2 separate regions of the Homo sapiens genome follow, and region 2 is linked to region 1. A link means that fine-mapping ties the variant in region 1 to the expression of a gene that starts in the linked region. Tissue or cell type: whole blood. Region 1 holds a variant in brackets; the other region holds the start of a gene. All regions are shown on one strand. Distances are between the middles of the regions.

Evidence for each region. PIP is the estimated chance that this variant, and not a neighbour inherited with it, causes the effect.
Region 2: IRF6 starts here. The variant in region 1 is fine-mapped to the expression of IRF6 in whole blood (INTERVAL, PIP above 0.99).

The regions. Positions count from the first base shown.
Region 1 is chr1:209,759,911-209,768,014 of GRCh38, reverse strand. It overlaps TRAF3IP3 (TRAF3 interacting protein 3), which reads right to left. Exons shown (of 17, transcript NM_025228.4): 3 at 7,631-8,033; 4 at 5,353-5,500; 5 at 5,145-5,202; 6 at 4,923-4,947; 7 at 4,623-4,652; 8 at 4,428-4,523. The coding sequence starts at 7,975. Among named protein-coding and RNA genes, the nearest start is that of TRAF3IP3, 7.9 kb to the right of the region's middle. The variant C/T (reference allele first, on the strand shown) is at 3,551.
Region 2 is chr1:209,802,376-209,810,479 of GRCh38, reverse strand. IRF6 (interferon regulatory factor 6) reads left to right here and starts at 4,338. Exons shown (of 9, transcript NM_006147.4): 1 at 4,338-4,533. RefSeq lists a silencer at 4,073-4,416.

The DNA of each region.
Region 1 (8,104 bases):
TTAAAACTGGAAGCTAGGGGGTTGGTGGGGAGGAGGGACAAAGAAGAGAAGGGTGAGGATTGGGAGGGGTGAGAAGAAGGGAGGGAGGAAACCACAACCAAGGGAACTTCTGCTCTTGGGCTGGAGCATGGGGTGAAACTCCTCCTTGGAGACAAACCCAGAAATGTCTCTTAATATATCCCCCCTCATTCCCACAAAGCTTGCTTTGATTCAAGCTCTGGTTGTGTCTTACCTGGGATATTACAAGAGTCTCAACTCCCCCAACCCCTGCTTGGAGCCAGGGTTCTTATTGCTACAAGTTAGATAATCCTTGAACCCTCCCCCCTCTTTTTTTTTTTTCAAGACAGGGTCTTGCTCTGTTACCCCATGCAGGAGTACAGTGGTGCAGCCTGGACCTCCTGGGCTCAAGCGATCCTCCTGCCTCAGCCTCCCAAGTAGCTGTGACTATAGGTGTGTACCACCATGCATGGCTAATTTTTTTATTTTTAATAGAGATGAGGTCTCACTATGTTGCCCAGGCTGGTCTTGATCACTCAAGTGATCCTTCTGCCTTGGCCCCCCAAAGTGTTGGGATTACAGGTGTGAGACACTGCATCCAGTTGGAAATTACAGAACTTTTTAAGACACAGATCTGATCATTCACAAGTCATTTCCTCAGATAGTAATTGCATACCTTCTAAGGATGAGCCAGACATTGCTAAGTGTAGGACTTTATACCTCAATAAAGCATAGTTCCATTCTTACTCAGCTTATTACCTATAGCAGTGTTTCTCAAGCTGGGTAGCATGCATTCTAAAGGATCTCTGATTTTATATATATACATATATGGGTTTCCTTTAAAAATGGGTCCATGCATTATTCAAGTTTGAGATACCTTGTTCAACAGAAAAAGTTTAAGACCCATAATTCTAAAGACCTGTCTGAGATCCTTTCTTTGGTACTACTCTGGCATACCTTCATTTCAGCCATACTCTGCTATACCCAATTCTTTGCCATACATAGGCCTGTAATCATTCCAATTCCTTTACCTTAAACACTCTTCTACTTTCTGCTTTTTTCCCTCATCATCACTCTTGCTTCTCTACTGGTTAGCTCCTACTCATCCTTCAAGATTCAGCTAAAATGGTTTCTTTCCTTTATTTTTATTTTTTGAGACAGAATCTTGCTCCGTCACCCAGGCTGGAGTGCAGTGGCACAATCTCAGCTCACTGCAACCTCCACCTCCTGGGTTCAAGCAATTCTTGTGTCTCAGCCTCCTGAGTAGCTCGGACTTCAGGCATGCACGATTACGCTCAGCTAATTTTTGTATCTTTAGTAGAGACGGGTTTTCGCCATGTTGGCCAGGCTGGTCTTGAACTCCTGGCCTCAAGTGGTCCACCTGCCTTGGCCTCCCAAAGTGCTGGGATTATAGGCATGAGCTGCCGTGCCTGGCCAGGTTTCCTTCCTTTAAAGCCTTCCCTGTTCCACCTCAGGTGGAATAATTGCTGCCTTCTTTCTCTTTTTCCTGCATCATGCTTTATGCACTGCTGCTATAGCCTTATTATACTGTTTTGGTGTTATTTATTACATGTCTCTGTCTTCATGGCTGGACTGTGAGCTCCTCAAGAGTTAGGACTGTAATGCTCTTTGCCCCTGTAGCACAAGGCCCAGCACAGAGTTGGAACTTATCAAATGACTGTCAAACAAATGAGTGAGATGATCTCAATTTAGTTCAGGACCAGAAACCACCTCACGTGCACAGCTGTCTGCCCCAAGTTCCTGCTCTGTCAATGAAAATGACCTAACAATCAGGAGCTCTGACCACAGATTGAGAAATCCAGGTACAATGTCTGACGTGAGGAGCAGGGCTGAGCTTAGGAAATCTTTTTTACATCACTGCAACTTCTCAGTTTTGTTCCATACTCTCCCATCATCTTTCTTTCTCTGCTCAAGCCATCTTCAAGGTAGGGTGAGATGTCACACAGGCCGGTGAGGTTGTGTGCTCCATCTCTTTCCACCCGGTGCGGTATGCTTTGGTGGTGTCAAGCTGCTTGTAGCTCATATTAATACATGAATTTATAGTACATACTAATTTACAGGTTTCAACATGGGGATTCTGAGGAAACTTGGGAATCCCCAAGACCCTTTTAAGGGATCAGCAAAGTCTTACTTTTTCTAATGACATATTTGTGTGAAACTGAATTTTTCTTTATGTTTAAACCAATAGATTGAATACAGAAGCAAATTGAGAAGCTAGCTGTCTTTTTTTTCAGCCAGACATTAAAAATATTTGCAAAAGTGTAAAGCAATGATACTCCTGTCACTAATTTTGTTTTTGAAAATATGGTTCTTTTTCTTTTTCTTTTTTGAGACAGAGTTTCACTCCCATCGCCCAGGCTGGAATGCAGTGGTGCAGTCTTGGCTCACTGCAACCTCCACCCCTGGGACGTAAGAGATTCTCCTGCCTTAGCCTCCTGAGTTCCTAAGACTACAGGTGCATGCCAATGTACCTGGCTAATTTTTTGTATTTTTAGTAGAGACGAGGTTTTGCCATGTTGCCCAGGCTGGTCTTGAACTCCTGAGCTCAAGTGATCCACCTGCCTTGGCCTCCCAAAGTCTGGGATTACAGGTGTGAACCACCGCACCCAGACTGTTTTTCTTAAAACATGTAATTCAGGTTAGCATGAAAAATTTTACTCTCATTATTTTAAAATTAATAATTCTTTCTCAATTTCTATCTTAATTTCTTCCTTCCTTCCTTCCTTCCTTCCTTCCTTCCTTCCTTCCTTCCTTCCTTCCTTCCTTCCTCTCTCTCTCTCTCCCTCTCTCTCTCTCTCTCTCTCTCTCTCTCTCTCTCCTGTCTCTCAGAGTCCTGCTCTGTCATCTAGGCTGGAGTGTAGTGGCACTATCATCGCTCACTGCAACCTCCACTTCCTGGGCTCAAGCGATTCTCGTGGCCCAGCCTCCGGAGTAGCTGAGATTACAGGTGTGCACCACCACGCCTGGCTAATTTTTGTATTTTTAGTAGAGACAGGGTTTTGCCATGTTGGCCGGGCTGGTCTCTAATTCCTGACCTCAGGTGATCTTCCTGCATCAGCCTTCCAAAGTGCTGGGATTTACAGACATGATGCACGGCACCTGGCCAACTGTTTTAATTTCTAGTATGGTAAATATAAACATTTCTTATATATTTTCAATAATTTAAAAAGTATAAAGGAATCCTGAAATAAAAAAATTGGAGAACCATTTTACTAGACTGTGTCATGCCTTTAGATTTTTTTTTTTTTTTTTTGAGATGGAGTCTCGCTCTTTTGTCCAGGCTGGAGTGCAATGAGGTGATCTCAGCTTACTGCAACCTCTGCCTTCTTGGTTCAAGCGATTCTCCTGCCTCAGCCTCCTGAGTAGCTGGGATTACAGGCATGTGCAACCACACCCAGCTAATATTTTTGTATTTTTAGTAGAGACGGGGTTTCGCCATGTTGGCCAGGCTGGTCTTGAACTCCTGACCTCAGGTGATCCACCCGCCTCGGGCTCCCAAAGTGCTGGGATTACAGGTGTGAGCCACCACCCC[C/T]GGCCTTGCCTTTAGACCTTTGCCTGTACCCCAACTAAAATACTATTCCTTCTTCCATATTTTCCTGGCAAATGCTTATATAAGTATTCCCCTGGCTCTTTTCTTCTCTGGAGTCACTCATTCCTTCTTGTATTTTCCTATATCTTGAAAACATTTCTTTTATTTTTCATGTTTTTGTATTGTTTAGTCATGTGTCTTTCTTACAAAACCGTGAGCCTTCTCAAAGCAAGAACCCTATCTAAATAATCTCATTATTTCTAGTGCTAGTCCAGTGCTCTGTATAGAGGACATAACCTATGAATATTGTACATTGAATGGACTAAAATCAAAGGCCTGAATTTTAGTTGCAGATCTGCCACTACCTAGCTGTGTGACTTTTCGCAAGTTACTTGACCCCTATGAAGCTCAGTTTCCTCATGGGCAAAATGAGAGTATTAGGCCAGATTGTCTCTAAGGTCCCTTCCCACTCTGATATTTTTATTCGGACTGAGTGGGTACATGGCATGCTGGTTTCGATAAATATCAGTGGGAATCCCATATGAAAATATTTGACATTTAGCATATTTAGTAATGTAAACTATATTGGGATCTTCCTTCATTCCTTCCAACAAATTAAAAAATGGGAATTCTTGCCACTTTTGTTTCTGGGTCTTCCTTGGATATGTAGCACCATGACCCTCAGGTGATGACCCATATATTTATTGTGACCTGTTTGACTTCTAGGTCTGAGCACCATCCCCCTCATCTCCTGCCTCTTCCCAGCTTACTTTTCAGTAGTGAGAAAACCCCTTCTCTTACTGTGATGATGTGGAAAGAAAAATGAGATGGGAACACATAGAAGCCCAAGCTTTGTTCAAAAAGAATTTCATTCCCTTACCTTCCAAGAGCTGTCAGAGGCCTGAATCAGAGTGGACAGTAGGTCTTGGAGAATCACCATTTTCTGTTTTAGGACCAGCTCCCTTTGTAGGGCCTCCTGGGGGTGCGGGCACAAAGTGCAAGAGGGTAAGATTAACCTGGAGGATCGGGGGTAAGTGGATGGAGGAACTGAGGGGAGGGGTCACATGCCACTTACTTTGAGGTAATCAGAAAGCTGGATGATTTCCTGGAGAGAAAGAACAAGGGTATTCAAAATGTCTGTAAGTCCCCTGAAACCCTGGGATATAGAACCAGAGCCTGGGCTGGCTTGTGTAGAGCAAACCTCTTCTGCTTTGGCTCTGACAGGGTCCCTTTAGTCCCCATGTCTATGCTCAGTACCCCCTTGCCATCCAGGAAGAAGATGCCCCTCCATCCCAGCCAAGTTTATCATGGAATTCCAGAATGTCAGAGCTTAATACTTTCTGATTTGACCCCTTCAAAGTGAATATGTGCTTACCTTATCCAGAACTGCAACTCCGTAACTGGAAAGAGAAGAAATTAAAAATAATGATAATGGACCAAAGAATCAAGTCAGGAGGCAGTGGGTTGATTCCTTCTGAAGAGCCAGTAGGGTGGGGAAGGGCTTCCTCTTTCTTAATTAAGGCGGACATGGAAATTCATTGTGTTCTCTCTAGAGAGGAATGGATGGGATGTGAGAGGGTTAGGGTCAGGAACTCACTTGGTTTGCTGACTGGCATCGTTCTTAATTGTTGGTCCTTCTGCCTTTGTCTGAGTACCTGAGAGATGGAGGATAAGTTGATTTAGAACTTACAGGGAGGAAGTGAGGGAAGTGGGGAGGGACAGGGACTCTCCATTGCCAGTGAGCTGGGACAGTTGTCTCAGGATTCTCTGCAGGCCCTGTGGAGTGAGGGAGGCTCTGCTCTTACCACGGTGGTGTTTGGGTGGCTTCTTGATGGGAGTGTCCTGTGGAGGAAGGCCCCCAGCCTGTGAGGAGAGGTGGTCAGACAGATCCCTGCAGATGCCTGAGGGAGGAGGATGCTGGGCTGGAAAGACTTCAGAGCTGGTGCCTGTCACCTGGAAGGCAAGTGGGGAATGCTGAAAACCACTGCCTGGAGCCTCTTGAAAGACTCTCCTGATGATTTCGGAAGGAAGAACTAACCATCATGTTTGTTATGGACTGAGTGTTTATTGTCCCCCCGCCCAAATCTGTGTGTTGAAATCCTATCTCCCAATGTGATAGTATTAGGAGGTGGAGACTTTGAGAAATAATTAGGTCAGAGCAGGTAGCCCTCATGAATGGGATTAGTGCCATTATTAGAAGAGACACGAGAGAGCTTGCTTTCTCTCTCTGCTCTCTGCCTTGTGAGGACACAATGAGAAGAAGGCCATCTGCATAGTGGGAAGAGTGCTCTCATCAGACACCAGATCTGCAGAATCCATGGGTTTAGAACTCCAGACTCCAGAATTGTAAGAAATAAATTTCTGTTATTTAAGCCACCCAGTCTGTGGTAATTCATTACAGGACGAAGACAATGTTTCAGATCCACAAAACCAAAGTAGCCCACTCAAGCTTTCAGAGCCACACAGGCTTCTCCTGCTCCTGATATCCTTGTCCTGACTGGCAGAAATGGTCCTCCTCAGGCCAGGCATATGTGGAGCTGTACTTTTCTCCAGGTTTTCTCTCTAGAATCTCTAGTTGTTGTTTTTTTTTCTCTCTCTACCTTGTTTGGTTATGGCCACTTACATAGCCAGCATGGTGATGTGGAAAGAGAACTGGTCTGAGTGGGGAGTGAGGGGATCTGGGTTCAGATCCCATCTTTTCTAGGTCTCAGTCTTCTGTCTGTGTAGTGAGGAGTTTGGAATAGATAATCCATAAGGTTCCTTCCATATTCAAAGGAAAGCCTCCTTTCTCTTAGTAACAGCTAGAAAATCATTGAGGTTTTGTGTGAAGACTAGGTAAAGTGGGGAGTTGTGGGAAGGTTTTTTGCTTTAGTATACAGTTCCTTTTCTTTTGCAACTGGGCTCTAGGATCATTTCTCTGAACAGCATCTCCTATTGAGCATAACAGATCCACTAGTTAAGAAGCCCTGATAGAGTACCCACTCTGGGTAGGGAACAATGCCAAGCATTACCATGGAACATAGTGGACACATCCCTGCTGTCAACATGCTCACAACTTCAGTAGGAAGATGGTTTGCTGGCCAAGGTCATCTCAGCATACCCTGGTTTTTGCCAACATTGTTCCTTTCCAGGCCAGACTAATGGGCCCTCTAAGGGTTACACAATCTTAGAAGATTTTAACCTCACAAGGCCCATAGACAGCAGAGGTGGCCTGGAGAAGCCAGGGAAAGCTTCCTGGACCAGATGAGGCTATAGTCAAGTGATTTAATAGAATTGGAATGACACAAGAGGAAGTGAGAAGAGTGGGCACAACAGCCTTGCAGAAGAAAAGAGGACAGATATGTCTGTGTGTGTGTCAAGAAGACTGGCCTGTGTGCTTGGCATATAATAAGCTTTCAGTAAATATTTGATGACTGATGGATGAATGAATGCTGTAAGATAGCTGTAGAAGACATGTGTATATTGCCTAAATTTGAACTGATATAGGCATTAGCTTTGGAATTATTTTTATTTATTTTATTTTTAAGTTTTTTAGAGATAGGGTCTCCCTCTCTTGCCCAGGCTGGAGTGCAATGGTGTGATCATAGCTTATTGCAGCTTCAAACTCCTGGGTTCAAGTAATCCTCCCATCTTTGCCTCCTGATTAGTTAGGACTACAGGTGTGCACCACCATGCCTGGTTAGTTTGTAAAGTTTTTGATAGAGACAGGGTCTTGTCTCTATCAAAAGGCTGGTCTCGAACTCCTGGCCTCAAGTGATCCTCCTGCCTTGGCCTCCCAAAGTACTGGGATTACAGGTATAAGCCAACATGCCCAGCCTGAAATTGTTTTTAAAAATTATTTTTTCTCTCTTATAAGTCAAGTGCAGAACAAAAAGAGCTAAACAAACGAAAACACAACAGCAAAAATCTCTGAATAAGTAGCTGTTGGCAACTTTACTATAAGTAGCTCTTGGCAACTTTACTATATGACTGAGGAAGAAGGACTTGATTTAGGTCACTTTTTAGTGACCTTGAGCCCACCCACCCTCCTTGTCCAGAGAGGGTCCCAGAGCACACAGCAGTATGTCCCTTGACACGGCCCACCTGCTCTCTGGGAGAAGAAATCCTTCTGGCACAAGACAAGGGTTCCTTGAGGACAGTCACCTGTCCTGGCCGCCTGGAGGGCCCTTGCTCCCTGGCCTGGGGATGCTGCGCTTTGCCCTTCTCCTCTAGCTCCAGGTTCCTCCTCCTGAAGAACTGCTGCAGTCGAGCTCTCTGGAGCTGCTCTCTCTGTTGGATCCTCAGCGTCTTCCCCACCTGGCGGCAAGTGGTCACATTGGGACGGCAGCGGCGGCTTTCACGGATCTCTTGCCTGCGCTCACACTTGGCCTCATAGCTCTCAGCCCACCGGGCCAAGCCAGGGGAGGGCCTGGGGTCTGGGCTGATCATGATGACCTCCAAGCACCTGTTGCGCTTGGCTTCCAGTTCCTGGAATAGATGCCTGGATCTGCCAAATGCCAAGAGGGAGGAGAAGGGGAGGGGTCAGAAGATGGGCAGAAAAATGACTATCTCCCTAGA
Region 2 (8,104 bases), 42 kb before region 1:
TATGGAAAGACTCAGAAGATGTTCTGAACACTTTGGTGGAGAATTCTTCTAGAGTCCAAAGCCAAAGTCTGTGCCATTGCTTGGATTGGAAAGTGAGATTCTTTTATGCTTCCTGCCATCTTGGTGATTCTAGAATTTGGAGGCCATTATAGAGTGCAACAACCAGAGTGCATTCAGTTTAGGCTGTGGCTTAGGCAATGTGTTAGGATCACCTGTGGCCCTGATGCTTTAAGATACTTGGATGGAGACAGAGATAAGCCAGGGCCAAGAGAAAAGTGAGGGTAGACCTGATGGGCTCCAGAATGCCTTCCAGAAGGAAGGTTGGAGTCTGATTTCCTTTGAAAGCACAGAATTGGATTGTTTAGTGCAATGTCCCTACCTGACTCTTTAGCAACTCCACCAAAGGTGCACAGCTTCTTTGCTATCACCAACTCCAGTAACACTAAACTCTCCACTGTATGGAGCCTTTGGGAGGAGTCCCAGTTGCCACGCTTTCTGCTCTGCCAAGAAGAGAGTGGGATTTGGGTTCATGGTTTTATTGTCACATGTCTGATATTGTAGAGTTTAAAGTCTCTGGGTGGAAAAAGAAACTCTTTCCTACCAAATGAGAGCTGACTGGGAACAGGAGAGGGGAATTCCCTCATTCCCTGTGGCTGTGAATCAGGGCCCCCGTGCTGAAATGTACGTCCCACTACCTGAAACTCAGACTCACTAGTGAGTCAGCAATGCCGCACCTGATTATCAATGGAGGGCAAAATGATGGGAGCATTGCAGGCCCAGGGCATGTTGGGAATGACTGAATCCTGAAGAGGCTCTTTTGAGAATACAGAAGAACTGATTCCTCAAGAGCTTGTGGAAAGACTCACAAGATGTTCTTATTCCCCAGATCAAGCAGATGAGGCGTGTATCAGAATAGAAGACATCAGGGTGGCCTATTGTCAGGGCTTGTTGCCTGCAGAGCCGGGGAGTTCCTCCTGATCTCTACCTTAATTCCACCTGCTTTACCCCCTTTCATTAATTCTTCAGTTGAGTGACATGAGAGTAGGGACTTGGTTTTGTTTATGGCAATATCAACAATATCAACAGTACCTAGATCCATGGGTGATTTTTTTTTTTTTTTTTTTTGAGATGGAGTTTCCCTCTTGTTGCTCAGGCTGGAGTGCAATTGTGCAATCTCGGCTCACCGCAACCTCCACTTCCTGGGTTCAGGCAATTCTCCTGCCTCAGCCTCCCGAGTAGCTGGGATTACAGGCATGCGCCACCAAGCCTGGCTAATTTTGTATTTTTAGTAGAGTTGACCATATTGGTCGGTCCGGTCTCCAGCTCCTGACCTCAGGTGATCTGCCCGCCTCAGCCTCTCAAAGTGCTGGGATTACAGGTGTGAGCGATTGCACCTGGCGATTTTTTTTTTTAAATCGTTAACAGCCAGTGCAGAACAGGTCAGAATAGACTTTGGCTGCGGAGCTGAGCAGGGGTCCAAGTGGATAGAGCCCCGGGTTTGTGTTCTAGTCTTGGTTTGTGGCTAATATGCCATGTGACCTTGAGTAAATCACTTGACCTCGCTGGGCCGCAGTTTTCTCATCTATGAAAAGGGAGAATTTAGACTAGAAGTTGCAATCAGATGCCTACAGGGTCAGGCAATTAAAGTAAATTAGTGAGCTCAATAGAGTGAGTTTGTATTGGCTGTAACGTGTAGACTCCCTCTAAATGGGCAACTGTTGCCAGGTAGAACTGCTGGTAGAGCATCCAGGGCACTTGACTCTTTAAGAGATGCTGAGAATTTTGATGTTTATGTGATACCTCCTGATATTTAAAATACTGTGTGGGTAAAAACTGGCTAAGTCAGTTTTAGTCTTGATCTAGATAGTCCAGAAGAACCCTCCCAGCTTGAGTTTTCTGATTCCAAAATATATGTCTTCTAAAGAAGGTCCTTAAGACATCCCCTTAGTCATGGGAATTTCAGCTGGTGCAAAAGTGAGTGCCTGTGTGTGGGCTCATACTTGTATGCCACTGGGGTTTTGACTCCCCTCAAATGACACTCTCCCAATGGCCTTACCCCTCATCCCTCTCATACACCTGCAGTGGAGCTTGTTTGGTCCCCAGAGCCCAGCCCTGGGCCAGATGGAAGATGCTGTTTGTCTAGTGAGCTCATCAGCAGTAAACAGCTAGCTGTGCTGATGAGCTTGCCCTTCCCCCAGTGAAGGGAAGAGTGGCCACAGGGCAGTGGTTGAGACAGAGGCTGGCTGAGTCAGGCCTTGGGGCCTTGCTGCCTTCCCAGGCCTTTGCTGGCTACATTCCAAAGCTAAATTGGGACTTGGAATCATGCCTACATTATTATCAATCTGGGGCTCTTCAACACACTTGTATGAGTATGCTAGGGCTACCATAACAATGTACCTCAGAGTGGGTGGCTTGAACAACAGAAATTTTTTGTTTCATAGTTCTGGAGTTTAAAAGTCTAAAATCAAGGGTCTGAGGGATGTGAAAAAAAAAAAAAAAAAAAGAGCTCTATTCCAGGTATCTCTCCTTGGGTTGCAGCTAGCTGTCTTCTCTTTATGTCTCTTCATATCACCTTCCCTCTGTGGGTATCTGCCTCTGTGTCCAAATCTCCTCCTTTTATAAGGACACCATTCATATTGGATTCAGGCTCACCCTAATAACCACGTTTTAACTTGATTACCTCCATAAGGATCCTGTCTCCCAATAAGGTCATATTCTGACATCTGGCTGTGGTTGCAGTGGGGGTGGTCAGGACTTCAAAATACAAATACAAATTTTTTTGTATGTGGGTGACAGTTCAACTCATTGTACCACTCCTCCACAGTTTCTCACTCATTACTTTAAACACCAAAACCTAAGTGACCTGCGCATGCCCCATTTCACCTACGACAGCTCAGTGGTTGAGGGTGGGGGATTTTTAAAAGTCTCATTTACTGTTGCACAGCCTCCTGCAAACCGGTCCTCTAGATAGATGAGGAAGGTGAGGGCAATCTCATCAAGCACCTGTTAGGGTACATGCAGGACTTGAATTTCAGGTAATAACAAGGAATGCCTTCTTGTTCTCTGACGCACTGTCTATATGGTATTTTTAATCTTTATGCCAATAATAATTGCAAGTACATATAAAGCACTTGATAAGTGCTAAATATTGTTGCAAGCAGTTTACATGTAGTTATTGAATTCCCACAATACCCCTGAGGTAGGTACTATTACTAACCTCTTTCTACAGATAAGACACCAGGGCCTAAAAAGCTTAAGAAACTTTCCCAAGTCTGTAGTAACTGATGGAGTTGGGGTCTAAACCCCAATAGTTGGCTCCAGAGGCTATGCTTTTACTCATTACACGATAGTGATCAGAGGAAGCAGGAACTCCAGTCTGGGCAACATAGTCAGACCCTGTCTCTAAAAAAAAAAAAAAAAAATTAGCCGGGCATGGTGACCCATGCCTATATTTCCAGTTACTTGGGAGGGTGAGGTGGGATAATTGCTTGAGCCCAGGAGGTTGAGCTATGATTGTGCCACTGCATTCTAGCCTGGATGACAGAGCCAGACCCTGCCTAAAAAAAAAAAAAAAAAAAAAAAAAGGAATTGAACTGGGTGCCAGTGCCTGTAATCCCAGCACTTTGCGAGGCTGAGGCGGATCCCTTGAGCCCAGGTGTTGCAGACCAGACTGTGTAACTTAATAGCAAGACCCCATCTCCAAAAAAAAAAAAAAAAAAAAAGGAAGAAAAAAGAAAGAGAAAAAAGCAAACAACAACAAAAAAGAAGGAAGGAATTATTATTCTCATTGAAGAGATGAGGAAACTGAAACCAAGAAGCCAAGAAGCTAAGTAACTTACCCAGGGTCACACGGGTAAGAGGCAGAGTAAAGGTAGAATTCTAGTCCTGAAAGCCTATGGCTTCTCCCAGACAGGACCAAGTGTCCTGGTTCTCTTCTTCATGTGCAACTCCACTTACACAGGCCCACGAGTAGTAGGGCCAACCCAGAATCTCAAAACCCTTATTTGTGCTTAACTGTCTGCATACTGCAGGGTAATTATGGGCCGTGAAGGAGGGAGGCACCCTCTCGACTTAGATCTGAACTCCCAGTCGCTTCCAGTTCCCAGGACCACCAGCCCTGAGCCGTAAGGCTAGGCCTGAATCTGGGACTTTCTTAGCCGGAGTTAGAAGCGGAGGAGTAGGGTGGGACGCTGGACGGACGCCGCTGGGCCGGGCAGCCCAGAAACGCGGAGTGTCATATTTCTTGCAACTCGCCAATCCCGAACGCCGGGGGGCGTGGCCACACCTGGGAGGCGTGGCCGGGCGGATGCGAAGGCTGCGGCGTCCTGGGGCGAGGCGCTGACGTGAGCTCGGCGCACCTGGGCTGGGCAGGTAAGGGCTGGTGCGGGACGGGGAGAGGAACCTGCAGTCCCTACTTGGGTAGAGCCAGGCGCCCCTTGGCTAAGACGTCGAGGAGCGTGGTAGCGACGGGTGATCTTCGCTGCGGACTTGGTTCGGAGGGACGTCCGCTTCTGGTGGACAGATTGAGCAAAGGTGGGTACGCCAACTTCTGGGGACCAGCTTGAGGGAGGAGAGGCTCCCCCGTGGGTGGGGTAGGACCCATCCCCGGAGTTTGTAGGGGGTGAGAGAACTTGCTTGGGGGCATCTGTGTGTTTGGGGTGGGTACCCACTGGGGCTGGGTGCCTGTCGCCCTTTTCCAGATAGCTTTGGGGCGGCCTCAGTTCTGTAGCGCTAGGCCCCTCTCGAATCTACACTTGTGTCTACTCTCCCTACCCCCACCGCCGAAGCGGAGGGCACTGCTCTCGGCCGTCAACAACCCCACTATCCGGTAGAGCTAAAGCACCGCGCCCCCTTCAGTCTTACCAACTTGCGGCTGGCCCCTGTGTCCCAGAGAGGGGACTTCCCAGGTCCGCAGGTCCTTGATCCTAGTGGGCGTTTTGGGAAACTGGAGTGAGGGTGGCCAGGAGCTTTGGAGCATTGGCGGTTTGTCTTCCCTCCCTGAGTCTGTTTGGCACAGTTAGGCCCTTCGCCCTGGGCCTGGGAGACAACCTTGGATTTCCAAGGAGCGGAGCTAGGTGCTGGGGAGGGTGGCGCTGGGGTGTGGTTGCTCTGGGGGTGGGCCCTCTTTGCCCGAAGGGGCTGGAGGGTGGTGTGGAGAATGGGGAAAGTCTCCCAGGCCTGACTTGGAAAGGAGGCCTGAGGTGTCACTCTTTACAGGGAGCCTGCTTTGTGGTAAAGGGGTCATCCTGTTCCAACCTGTTCTCTTGGTGGATGTCAAGAGTGGAAGTCAGGGAAAAGAGATGGATAGAGAGAGGAAGGCGCTTGGGTGGGATTGGTGAAAGCTGGTGTTGACCCAGGAGTGTGGTTTAGGATGAGACGTGTGTATGATGTATGACAGTGGCACTCAATACCTTGTAACTCCCATTCGCCATCCCCCAGCTTCCATCCAGCAGAAGGGAAGGGTGTGGGCATTTTGACTAGAGGCCTGCAGTTTACCCCTAAGCAGGGCTAAACAGGGAAGCCTGAGGAACGGAACTTAGACGATGGCATTTCATTTCTTTCAGGAGAAAGGGAAGAGCTGGGACTGCTAAGAATTGTCTGCGAGAAATGGCGTGTGTTTTAACCTGAGCAAAACCACTGACGGCCAAATCTCGGCTTTTGTGTGGCAGTGCCCCTGGAAACTAGTCTGGGGAGGAGCTATGGAGGTGGCAATGAGGGTGTTTATGGAGGACCTGCTCCCTAGAATAGGGGTATGGGAGAGGACAGTTATGCTCGGAGGAGGCTGAAAGTGTCCCTCCTCTATGCTCACTGTGAGGGGAATAGATAGGTTAGCATCATTGTCCTTTGGCTGTTTAAGTACCTGTTAGAGACACAGGCCTTACATTTTGCTGTGATGGCAGCTAGAGATACCAAGATGAGTTCAACTAGGCTAAGGTGGTTCTTCAGGCGTTGGGATTTGGGTGGCAAGAGTGTTTAGAAAGAGAACTCTGATTTAGGTGTGTTTGAGAGTGGATGTTATGCAGTCTCCACCTCAATCACTTTATTGGCCCTCTATGCTGCTGGGATCTTTGTTGATGTTTTTAGTTTACTTTCTTGGTGCGCAGAAGATGAGAGGGACATGGAAGACAAGGTGCAGTGGCAGGGTTTGGTACAGAACACTGTGACTTAGGAAATAAAGCACCTCAGCCCAGATGTAAAATGGGGATAGTAATATCACATTCAGGTTTATGAGGATGAAATCAGACATGTTAGGTAAAGGTTCATGTAAAAATTGTAAAGCCTACACAGATACAAAGGATTGTTGTTACCATCCTTCATAAGAAATGTCTTATTGTCCTGAGGTTAAGAAAAAATTACTTGTAGTTTTTTAAATTATAAATTGAAACATATCATTGTAGGAAAATATGAATCATATATAATGTATATGGGAGAATGTAAAAAGCACCCATAGTTGCATCACTAGATAACCATTACAAATATTTTGTTGCATTGTTGTATTTATTTCCTTTTTTCAGTTCTGTGTGTATGTGCACATGTATGCAAGTATATGCTGTGTTACAAGATGGAGATAGTGCTACACAGTCAAGTTGTATGCTGTTTCCCCCTGCCCCCACAACTTCATATTGTAAACATTTCCTTGAGTATAATACAAATTCTGACACCTGTTGTTAATGGCTACTTAATATTGCAGCCTGTGGTTGTGACGTAATGAATGTTTCTGTCTTGGCCATTTGGGTTTTCAATTGTTCCATCTCTGCCTGTTTTTAGACTTGTAGTTACTGGGTGGTGAGTGGGGGAGATCTTGGCTGACTTTCAGAAGGTGGAGAGGGTTTACAGTGAGAGAGGCAGGGCATGGGCTTGGAGGAGGGCAGGCTGGGGCTCCTTCCATGGGGCTGAGGCAAGGCTGCTCTTGTGTAGTCCCATCTTAGGAGAACACTGAGAACCCAGGGCTCTAGATCTTAATCACTGATTTCTGTGGGTGGCTGCTTCTCCTTTCCCATCATCAGGTGCAGCTCCTGGTCTTGGCCTGATTGCCTTAATTTTTGCATGGTGGGATTTGGATCAACTACAATAAGTCCTTTTGGACTTTTCTTCCAGTCCACTATCAGTCAAGAGTTGGATTTTAATGTCTGACAGGCCCAAACACAGCACTTACCAGTATTGCAATGGAAATTCTCAAAAGCTCTTTACTAGATTGACTGGTTTGGTGCCTATTTCCCTATCCTCTTTTTCCTTCTCTTGCTCCATCCCCCTTTCAGTAGTGATAGGACTGGGGAGCAGAAGGTAGAACTAGCCGTTGAGAGAATATGCATCCCCTCCTCCTTATAAGGCTTATAATGCACTCCATGGTTTGATGGTTTCACATGCTGCCCTACAAAACACCGTAATTCAAGGCCAACTACATGGGGGTACTTGAACACTGCGTGCCAACCTGACCTACCCACTATGCTCCCAGGGGGAAGGTTTCAGTTGCAGGACTTGGTAATTGGGTCAGAAAGCTCAGGTGAGAGCAGGTCTTGCCTTGCTCTTAAAGTGCCAGACGCTGAGTTGGGTTTGGGTTTTTCACATTTGTTGGGAGTCTGGCTGGGGAGAGAAGTGGTGTTATGGGCCACCCCGTCAGCTAAGCTCTTCTGAGTAGGAGCCTTCAGCTGACCCTTTTAACCTCTTTTCTTTCCCACCTGGCACAGTTTATTCCCATATTTAGCTGCTTTGCTGTAAGGTTGTTTGGTTTCAGAACTGTGGTCCAGGTAGGGATCTTTCTGGGTATGAAGGTGACCTATTTATCTTCCCCTCCTTCTCAGGCCATTGTGGGGCTTGAGAAGTTCCAGTGTGGAGTTTCTCAAGAAGGAACATGGAGCGTCAGTGTTTAGTAACTAACACCGTGCTTGGCACACAGTAGCTGATGAACAAATATTTGTTGAATGAGTGTTCTTTTTCCAGGCATCTCATTCTCATCTTAAGTAAAAACAAAATAAGAACACCAAAAAATCCAAACACAACATCTCAGACAAACAATTCTCCAGTGACTGTTTTTTTATCAGTCACCCAATCTGGGAAGGCTTTTGTTTTCTGCTGTGAGTGCCAGCTGCTCTTGAATGTTATC